2 linked regions of the Homo sapiens genome follow. The protein of the gene in region 1 purifies or fractionates together with the protein of each later gene. This does not show direct contact. Each region holds a gene or a part of one and is shown on either strand. Other genes may lie near its edges.

The links. The genes of interacting proteins can lie anywhere in the genome.
Region 2: the proteins of CARS2 (region 1) and OXA1L fractionate together in Homo sapiens (co-fractionation; one large-scale study listed by BioGRID). This does not show direct contact.

What each region holds. Positions count from the first base shown.
Region 1 is NC_000013.11:110,664,218-110,669,285, forward strand, and holds part of CARS2 (probable cysteine--tRNA ligase, mitochondrial), read right to left. Parts: intron 3,257-5,068; coding exon 3,123-3,256; intron 2,712-3,122; coding exon of another isoform or gene 2,554-2,711; exon of another isoform or gene 1,311-2,553; intron 1-1,310. UniProt on the Homo sapiens protein: Mitochondrial cysteine-specific aminoacyl-tRNA synthetase that catalyzes the ATP-dependent ligation of cysteine to tRNA(Cys). In addition to its role as an aminoacyl-tRNA synthetase, has also cysteine persulfide synthase activity.
Region 2 is NC_000014.9:22,768,553-22,773,975, reverse strand, and holds the end of OXA1L (mitochondrial inner membrane protein OXA1L), read right to left. Parts: intron 4,186-5,423; coding exon 4,042-4,185; intron 3,784-4,041; coding exon 3,698-3,783; intron 3,516-3,697; coding exon 3,351-3,515; intron 3,172-3,350; coding exon 3,067-3,171; intron 2,959-3,066; coding exon 2,796-2,958; intron 2,709-2,795; coding exon 2,628-2,708; intron 2,543-2,627; coding exon 2,418-2,542; 3' UTR 934-2,417; downstream 1-933. Other genes in the region: SLC7A7 (Y+L amino acid transporter 1), read left to right, coding at 1-43, 260-366.

The DNA of each region.
Region 1 (5,068 bases):
TCCTCCAGGCCGGACGCAGTGGCTCACACCCGTAATACCAGCCCTTTGGGAGGCTAAGGTGGAAGGACCGCTTGAGCCCAGGAGTTTGGAGACCAGTCTGGGCAACATGGCAACACCCGGTCTCTACAAAAAAAATTAAAAATTAGCTGGGCGTGGTGGGGCACACCTGCAGTCCCAACATCCCAACAACTCAGGAGACTGAGGTGGGAGGATCGCTTGAGCCCAGGAGGTTGGGCCTAGAGTGAGCTATGTTCATGTCACTGCACTCCAGCCTGGGCCACAGAGCGAGACTCTGCCTCAAAAATAAATAAATAAATACACCAACCAACCAACCAATTAGAATGTGATTTCCAAAAAACATATATAACTTTGAACATGTAATTCTATATAATGTGATTACACCAAGCACGATTCTGATTTTTTAAAATTGATGATAGTTGGAAAATAAAACACATTTGCTAAGGCCTGAATGTTTATGTCCTCCCAAATTCCTGTCAAAATCCTCAGCCCTCAGGTGACGGTAACTGAAGGCAGGGCCTGTGGGAGGTGATGAGGTCACAGGGGCAGAGCCAGTGTGAATGGAATCAGTGCTCTCATAACAGAGGCCCCTCGAGAGCTGACGGCCGTCTACAAATGGGAAGCAGGCCCTCCCGAGACACCGAGTCTGCCAGTGCGCTGACGCAGGACTCCCAGCCAGCAGAACTGTGAGGAATTCATTGCTGTTGTTCATAACACGCCCGCTTTCAGTTTGGCTATAGCAGCCCTAACAGGCTGGGATAGTGTCTGCCCACTTAGCTCTTCCATCCACTGGGTACAGGAGAACAGGTGTCACTTCTCCTGCGTCAGGAGACACTGATGTTTTGTTTGGGGCCAAACTAGTATGAAAAAGATCGCTGGTATCTTAACAGGTAGTAAAAAATCACTGAAAAATAGCCACAAAACTTTCCCACCACGTGCAGTGGCTCACGCCTATAATCCCAGCACTTTGGGAGGCAGAGGTGGCAGATCACTTGAGGTCAGGGGTTTGAGCCCAGCCTGGCCAACATGGTGAAACCCTGCTTCTACTAAAAATACAAAAATTAGCTGGGTATGGTGGTATGCACCTGTAGTCGCAGCTACTAGAACAGCTGAGGCAGGAGAATTGCTTGAACCCAGGAGGCAGAGGTTGCGGTGAGCTCAGATAGTGCCACTGCACTCCCAGGCTGGGGGACGGAGCGAAATTGTTTCAACAACAACAGCAAATGCTTTCCCATTCCCACATCGGAAGGTGAACACGACCTCCGTTTCTAGACCCGGCCCCTCCTCATTACCTGACAGGACGAAGCGTTGGCACAGCTAAGGCTGCCCTTCTTGCCCCCCAGCTCCACACTCGCAGAAGGGCTCACAGCAGGTCATGGTTGTCAGTAACAAACCCTGACCTACTGAACAGGATAAACCTGCAGACAGAAACGTGCCTGCGGAGGGAGCAACTCCAGCTCCTCAGACAGTTCAGGGAGCGCTGAACTGAGCCCTGAACGAAGTCAACGAGGAAGTGACTTCGGGGCAATCAGCCTCATCTATTTACTTTCATGAAGAAACCCAAGTGAACCCTGCTGCGGACCAGAAAACCGGAGCACTTCTGCATTTAATGTCACCTTACTGTGACATCTTAATTTCCCAATTCAAGGGTTTCAAAAACTAGTATTTGTTAATTTCCTGTATTTCAGATGTCAAAGTTTGCATCTCCAAATCTATCACTACCAAACACTCTTTATCTTTCTTCATCTGGGACAAGGGACACGACTACCTCTGTGCCTGAGACACAGTGTCTCAGCCCCACTATCTGGGCTCCCAGCACGCTTCCTCTCCAAGAACACAATTCAGAAGTCCTTGGGCCACGGAAGAGAGACCTCCTTCCCCATGGTCAAAAGTGGAGTGCAGGCCCCCGGCTGTGGAAATCAGTGCTCGGCTCCCTGAGGGGCGATGCCTTAAATATTCCACCACTGGGCAGCGTGCACCCCCTTCCCATGTGAGCGCCAGCTGAAACGGAAGTGAGGGCGGCAGGCGTTTGTTCTGATTAGAAACTCCACCGACACCGGAATAAAGTGGATTTCAGCTAGTGCTGAGCCCTCCCCAGGGAAATGGTATGGGGTGCTGGACAACAGCTCCTAAGTCCTCAAACAGCCACGCAGCCAGCTTTGTTTCTGCTTCATTTTTAGACAAAAACTGGGGCACTGTGAGAGGCAGACATAGTAGGTAATGGTAGGGGCAGAGCCGCCTGCTGGGTTCCCCGACTCAACAGGGTAAGCCCGGGGTGAAGGACATGCTGCAGGAAGTGACTTCGGGGCAATCAGCCTCATGTACTTTCACGAAGAAACCCAAGTGAACTCTGCTGCGGACCAGAAAACCAGAGCACTTCTGCACTTAATGTCACTTTACTGTGACATCCTAATTTCCCAATTCAAGGACTTCAAAAGATAGTATTTGTTAATTTTCTGTATTTTAGATGTCGAAGTTTGCATCTCCAAATCCTATCACTACCAAACACTCTTTATCTTTCTTCATCTCAAATACCTTAGCTGTCCATCCCCAAAAGGTAATAAGACTAGTTAATCGTGACCCTGTAAACTTGGAAATACGACTCTTCCAGTGCATCCAAGTGAATTCCAAAACTGCTGGGTTCGAGGTGTTGCTTAACTCATGGTGTTGCATCCACTTCTGAGAGCAGACAGCTGGGGTTCATCAGTTAGGTGTTTGAACAGTGGAAGAAAGGGCAATGTTATTAGAAGATGGCAGAGATGTCTAGTGACAACATTATAGCTTCAGAAAGGATGTTCATAATTATCGTTACATTGTACTACTTCAAGTTCCTTCTTAATAGTTTTACTTGAAAGAAACCTTATATAGAACAGCATTGCCAAACATTTTCCATATTCTAGTCAGTTCCAAAAAGGTATAATCATTGCTGCAATCCAAGGAAGCTCATGTTCAAATGATTGAAACTCAAAAATAATTTAAGAGGCAAATCCATTTCTTGACCTATTAGCTGATCTACTATGTATTTCCAAATGTAGCTGTTCCGCCGACAAAGACAGAACTGCTAGAATTGAAACAGAACAAATTAATCTGAAGTTATTACTTACCAGAATGCAGAAAATAATTTCCCCACTGCTCGCACTGATGAAAGACTTCGCACTGTGCAATTTCGTTTTCATGATGTGGAAAAGCTAAATCTATCCCACCTGAATGGATATCCAGTTGACTTCCAAATACCATACTGCAAGACACAGTGCAAAGTAGTGAATTCATTCAATCAAGCAACATATTTTCTTCTAACCTCGTCTATTTATTCCTTCCAGCCTTTTTAATTCAATGAATAAATGGATCTCAGTTTTGCATCAATTTGCATGATAATTTAACTGATTCAAATGAAAACTGAAATCCTGTCATCACAAGCCCGTAATTCATGACTTTTCATCCTAGTAAAGGCACTTAATTCTTTTTGCTCCAGGTTCTTTTTTTCTCTTTTTCTTTCTTTCTTTTTCAACTCAAAAAATTACCTTTACTTACTTTCAATAGGTAGAGTTTAGTGGTTTTCCAATTTTAACAAGAGATGGAACTATAAAATCATGACAGTGTTTCATTTGGCTTTTGCAAGTGTAACTAACAGTCACCTACGAATAACAAGGTAAGAGAGTTCAAAGCAACACAGGTTGCCATTTCTCCTACAGTGCTGTGCCATGCCTCCATAAAAACCGCGTTTCTGCAAACCCATACAAAAAAATTAATGGGGTTGATGGGGGAAATGAGGCTGGGCCAGCCCACTCGAAGCTCTGTCCCTGGACCAGCTGCAGAAGCATGGCGACGCAGCAGGCCGGTGGATTTTCTTAAAATGATAGATAGAGAAATTTCTAAGGTGCCAACACCTCGCAGAGGTCCTTCCTGCTCCCACTGGTCTGGTTCCCTGTGCTCGGGGAAGCACTGCACACGGAGGTCTCGAGCCTGGGGAAACAGGCATCACAGAAACACACGCTGTAGTGTGACGTTCTAAGACTTTTACATCTTAGCCGGGCGCGGTGGCTCACGCCTGTAAACACAGCACTTTGGGAGGCTGAGGCAGGCGGATCACAAGGTCAGGAGATCGAGACCATCCTGGCTAACATGGTGAAACCCCGTCTCCACTAAAATACAAAAAATCAGCCGGGCGTGGTGGCGGGTGCCTGTAGTCCCAGCTGCTTGGGAGGCTGAGGCAAGAGAATGGCATGAACCCGGGAGGCGGAGCTTGCAGTGAGCCGAGATCGCGCCACTGCACTCCAGCCTGGGTGACAGAGCGAGACTCCGTCTCAAAAAAAAAAAAAGATTTTTACATCTTAGTGACGGGTCGTCTTAGGGTAACTCTAACATTCCCTGCAGTTCAAATGCTGTGAAGGAGACTGTGGGACCAGGAGTGGGGAGGGGATGGGAGGGGCCTCATTTGTATTTGGATGGGCAATTCTCCCTTCCGAAGATCTGAAGCCAACACAACGACGTGAAAGTTTCACAAGCTGAACTATGGGGCCACAACCTTCACTATGTTAGTTTCGCTCCTGATCTCTACGTTACACCTATTTTAAAATCAGAGAAGGCTCAGAAGGAACAACAATAATGGTCTCTTCATTATTTAATCTTTCAACAAAAATAAGAATTTCACATAACATTACATTTGAAACTCACTAAATGTTTTCTACCTGCTTTAGAGAAATTATTTGAATCTAAAAAATGAATCTACAACCCAGTTTATATGCCATAGTCTGCTATTAAGTATTGATAAACACATAGAAGTAAAGTGTGACTGGTGACTGGACATTTTTACTTTTTTTTCATCAAAAGTCAGGCCCATGCTTCCTACTAACAACAGGGTTTGAGGTCTGAGGAATGACGGAAGCGTTTCCAGATGAGCCGCATAACCACAGTGCAAGTGGTGGGGGCTTAGCAGAAAAGGGAATCTCTTTCTGGGTCTTGAAGAAGATCCACCAAAATTTAGATAGGCAGGTCGTGGGGGACAAGGCCTTCCCTCCTGGTGGAATGGGGCGACCCTACTCGGCGCTGA
Region 2 (5,423 bases), on another chromosome or scaffold:
GTGCCAGAACATAAGCGACCGCTTTACCTCCGAAGGATCGTGGGTAAGCCGTGCATCCTTAAGTCCGCTCAGCTATTGCAGAGCTTGGTTTTTGCCTTTTTCTGTAAATCCAGCCTCCAAAGACATCTTTGCCTTAGCCCCTTCTTATGAACCCTTCGGCTTAGTGGAATCACTCCCCTCACACTGAGTTCCATTCAGTGACACTTGAACTCAGCCCAGCTGACCTCTTCTCAATTCCAACTCAAAGTTCTCTTTGTAGGGTCTGCCACAAGGTACCTCCAGGTCCTGTGTATGTCAGTTGCTGCAGAAATGGATTTGGAAGATGGAGGAGAGATGCCCAAGCAACGGGATCCCAAATCTAACTAAACACCATCTGGAATCCTGATGTGGAAAGCAGGGGTTTCTGGTCTACTGGCTAGAGCTAAGGAAGTTGAAAAGGAAAGCTCACTTCTTTGGAGGCACCTGTCCAGAAGCCTGGCCTAGGCAGCTTCAACCTTTGAACTTACTTTTTGAAATGAAAAGTAATTTATTTGTTTTGCTACATACTGTTCCAGACTTTTAAAGGGGACAATGAAGGTGACTGTGGGGAGGAGCATGTCAGGTTTGGGCTTGGTTGTTTTAGAAGCACCTGGGTGTGCCTACCTACTCCTCTTTTCTTTTAAAAGGGCCCACAATGCTCCAATTTCCTGTCTCCTTTAGAGAGACATGAAACTATCACAGGTGCTGGATGACAATAAAAGTTTATGTTCCTAAAGTCTGAGTGGCTTCATTTTATATAGTATCTATCTCTAGGACAGCTCCCATTAGCCTAGAAACACAAAGACTAAAATCAATCTTATGCTTGAAAGTATATCCATCTTTTCTCTCTCAAGCTAGCTGCTGAAGGCTGATAAACCAGGCTCTACACAAAGGCAGACAACAGAACACTTAAACTGCTCTAGTCAAATGTTGGATTGTTACATAAAAATGACATGAACTTCCTTTTTGAGACAGGATCTTGCTCTGTAGCCAAGGCTGGAGTATAGCAGCATGATCTTGGATCACTGCAGCCTCAACCTCCTGGGCTTAAGCTATCCTCCCACCTCAGCCTCCCAGGTAGCTGGGACTATGGACAAGCACCACCATGCTCAGCTAACTTTTTAGCAGAGACAAGGTCTCGCCATGTTGCCCAGGCTGGTCTCAAATTCCTGGACTCAAGTGATCTACCCACCTCAGCCTCCCAAAGTGCTGAGATTATAGGTGTGAGCCACTTTGCCCAGCCTGGAACTTTCATTCTTAATTATCACTAAGAATTTGCACACATCTACTTCTTGAAATTTTTAAAGTAATCTTGGGATCAAGAAGTGCGGTTACTATATTTAGATACAATCTCAACATTCAACTTATCAGCCACACCTCTAGACTGCAATCCAAATGTGCATAGAACAACACATGCATGGGTTGGAAGTTTAAACTGTTTTTTTTTTTTTTTTTTTTTTTTTTTTTTTGAGAAGGAGTCTCACTCTCTTGCCCAGGCTGGAGTGCAGTGGCGCAATCTCGGCTCACTGCAAGCTCTGCCTCCTGGGTTCACGCCATTCTCCTGCCTCAGCCTCCCAAGTAGCTGGGAATACAGGCACCCGCCGCCATGCCCGGCTAATTTTTTTTTTTTTTTTTTTAGTAGAGACGGGGTTTCACCATGTTGGCCAGGATGGTCTCGATCTGCTGACTTCGTGATCCGCCCGCCTTGGCCTCCCAAAAGTGCTGGGATTACTGGCGTGAGCCACTGCGCCTGGGTGGAAGTTTAAACCCTTAATGCCAGGTTAAAACATTATATTTTCCAAGGCCATGGGCCAGCAAAAGCAATCATGACTCACTCTATTCTTCAGTTTTCTTTTTTTTTTGAGACAGTCTCCCTCTATTGCCCAGGCTGGAGTGCGGTGGTGCGATCTTGGCTCACTGCAACCTCCGCCTCTCGGATTCAAGCAATTCTCCTGCCTCAGCCTCCCGAGTAGCTGGGACTACAGGTGTGCACCACCACGTGTGGCTATTTTTGTAAAACAGCAGAGATGGCGTTTCCCCATGTTGGCCAGGCTGGTCTCAAACTCCTGATCTCAGGTGATCCACCCACCTCGGCCTCCCAAAATGCTGGGTATTCTTCAGTTTTCTGAAGTGCACACTGATTTCCCTGTTCAATAAGTATCAGGAAGCAGCATGTAGTACAGAGGTTTACTAACTCTGTGAATGGGAAGATCACTTGGCTACCCAGTGCTCTCTTATAAACATAAGTACAAGAGTGTTTCATGAAATCCGTTTTTAAAATGAACATCTCTGTGTGCCACAGTTCCTAGGACTGGGGCAAGGACACAGTGTCAAGTCTTGTTTTGAGGATGAGTCTCTGAAGAGACAGAATTCCTGCCAGAATGCGCACAGAACATAAGTCAGCCAAGTGTGTCGTGCCAGGGATACTTTGACTTTGGTTTGCTGCTGCTGCTAGGGATATTGGGAGGGTTATCCTTTCCAGGTTGTAGGAGAGGGTTGTGGGTAAAGGTCTGTCGTAAAGGACCTGAGGGGAGAAGAGAAAACAAATTTCAACGAAGAACAGAAAGGAAGAAACAAAAGACAGAATTTGGCCTGAAAGGACTATTTACCCCTGGCTGCTAGCTCCAACTGATTCCGCATGCGTTGTTCACGCTCTCGCAGCTGACGCGTCATTTCAGCATTTTTCCAGCCTGTGTAAAGAGAAGCAAGAGAGTCAGTTGCATTCCTATTTTTAGACCCCTTTCCCTAGTCCTTTTTCACAGAGGATGAGCCCTTACCTTTTTTGAAGCTCTCTAGGAAGCCTTCCCGTGGAGGTAATTTGTCCAGGTCATGTACAACACGCTGGGGGATTTTAAGTACAGTGCGTACTGCTGGAATCCGGAGACAGGATACTTGGACCAGGGAAAACAAATTGGAGGAGAGCCAGTACATAAACACTGCCTGGGTGAGAACACAGAGAAGGGACTCAGAAGCTGTATCCCTGGTCAGCTTGCTAGGTGGCTAGGCTAGGCAGAAGGCCTTGGAGCCAGCCCATAAGGCATTACATACCGTGGGGAAATGCATGGTTATGGGCAAGGTTATCAGGGGCATCATTCTGATGACATTTCTCATCCACTGAAGGTCAGAACTTTGCACACCTGTCTCAGCACCTAGCTGCCAAAAGAAGTGGGGTGGAAAAGTCGGGAAAGCTGTCAGTTTCAGTGAATCTGTCTCTAATCTCTTACCCATCAACTCTTTCTCCAGCAAGTGAAGGATGACCATTCTGTACAACTACTTTACCCTCCAACCCCAGTTCACTTTGCAGGCCTGGCACTTGGCCAATCTGGGCTTACCTCAAGAACAGCCCACATTGTAGCAGTGACTGCCAGTGGTAATATGTAGATGGGATCGGATACCGTGAGATCCTGGAACCACCAGAGGCCACCTGTCTGCAGGCTGGGCACAGGAAGGTTGGCCATCTCTCTCAAAGCAATGAAGAAGGAGATGAAGATTGGGGCCTATTACACAAGATAAACAGTGTCAGCATGCTTTACCAGAGAGAACATTTTCATCACCCCACTACTGAAAGCCATGTATAATCCACCACCACCTGTTTTTTGGGGGACCTGGGACACATGAAACACAGAGAGGAAATTTCATGGGTACTGGATGAAATAAGGAAGGAAATGTTTTTGCTCACCTGAGTCACAGGGAGAATGAGAGGTTTATAGAGTTTAATACCATGTTTTTTCTGGTAAAGTGCCATCTCCGAGGAAGCCTTGTAATCTGTGAGGTGAGGGGAAATTAATGGTTGGGGTAACAGTTACATCAGTGGAGGTGAACATCCTCATTATCTACCTGGCCTGTGAAATTTCTAACCAACCCTGGCCACTCCTTGGGAGCATTAGGTCTAAGAAACAGATAAACCTTTAGAACTTTCCCGACTGTGGCAACTTCTGATTTACATTGTTCCTTTCCCCCAGCAGAATGTAAGGAAAAGTGCAAATGTGGACTTCTCCCACGCTCATTCTGCAACTGACTCACACTCAATATGGTCTCCTGCTAACTTGGCCTCTCTGATTCGACTGGAAAACTTCTGGATCTCTGGCAAGTGATTGTGGATCCTGGCTGCCTCTCGCTGGCCCGTCACGATGAGAGGAAAAATCAGGCAGCGGGCAAAGACTGTACCTGGAAAATACAAACTAGGATTGGAGTGAAATTAAAGCAGTTCTGCAGCTAGAAGGTTGAAGGCTTTTAGGTCCTTACTGAAAGGGTCTTATTCTTGCCTTGTCCATTCTATGACTCATGCCTAAGAGGCCCAGAAATAAGGTCAGGGGAATGAATTAGTTGCTTTAAGGCTCAGTTCTCTAATTTGGCATCACAAAAGTATGGCATTAACTTCTCTAAGCAGATGATTAGGAATCCTGTTTGTTTCCTCAAACAAAAAGCTGACAGGAGTGGATTTAGCAATTATGTTACTGGCAGTTCGAATGAGGTGATATGAGTAAAAGCCAGACGGCTGAGGGAGTAAATGGAAAGAAGTAGGCTAATTGGATGCAGAGCAGTCTTTTAAGTAACAGCTATCAAAAGAATGAAACCCAGTCATCTGTGACAACGTGGATGGAACTGGAGATCACTATGTTAAGTGAAATAAGGCAAGCACAGAAAGACGAACATCGCCATGTTCTCACTTATTTGTGAGATCTAAAAATCAAAACAAATGAAATCATGGGCAGAGAGTAGAAGGAAGGTACCAGAGGCTGGGAAGGGTAGTCAGGGTTGGGAATAGTTAATGGGTAAAAAAAAGTTAGAATAAGATCTACTATTGATTGCACAACAGGGTGACTATAGTCAGTAATAATAGCATATTTTTAAATAAAGAACGTAAAAATTAGCCAGGTGTGGTGGCACACCTGTAGTCCCAGCTACTTGAGAGGCTGAGACATGAGAATCGCTAGAACCTGGGAGGTGGAGGTTGCAGTGAGCTGAGACTGCACCACTGCACTCCAGCCTGGGTGACAGAGCAAGACTCCGTTTAAAAAAATAAATAAAATAAAAAATAAAATAAAAGTGTAATTGGATTGTTTGTAACTTAAAGGATAAATGCTTAAGGGGATGGATATCTCATTCTCCATAATGTGATTATTACACCTTGCATGCCTCTATCAAAACATCTCATGTAGCCCATAAATATATACACCTACTAGGTATCCACAAAAATTAACAACAACAAAATAAATAACAGCCATCAAAGGAAGAAGATAGGATAGTAAGTGAAGGGGAACTAAGGATGAAGGGAAGAAACCTTCCCCCAGGTAACACATGGGTGTGCCTGAGCATGTTTACATGTTCGGGGTAGGGCAGTGAGGAGGGAAATGCTGAAGACACAGGGGAGAAAAGATAATTGATGGAGCAACGTGGCAGAA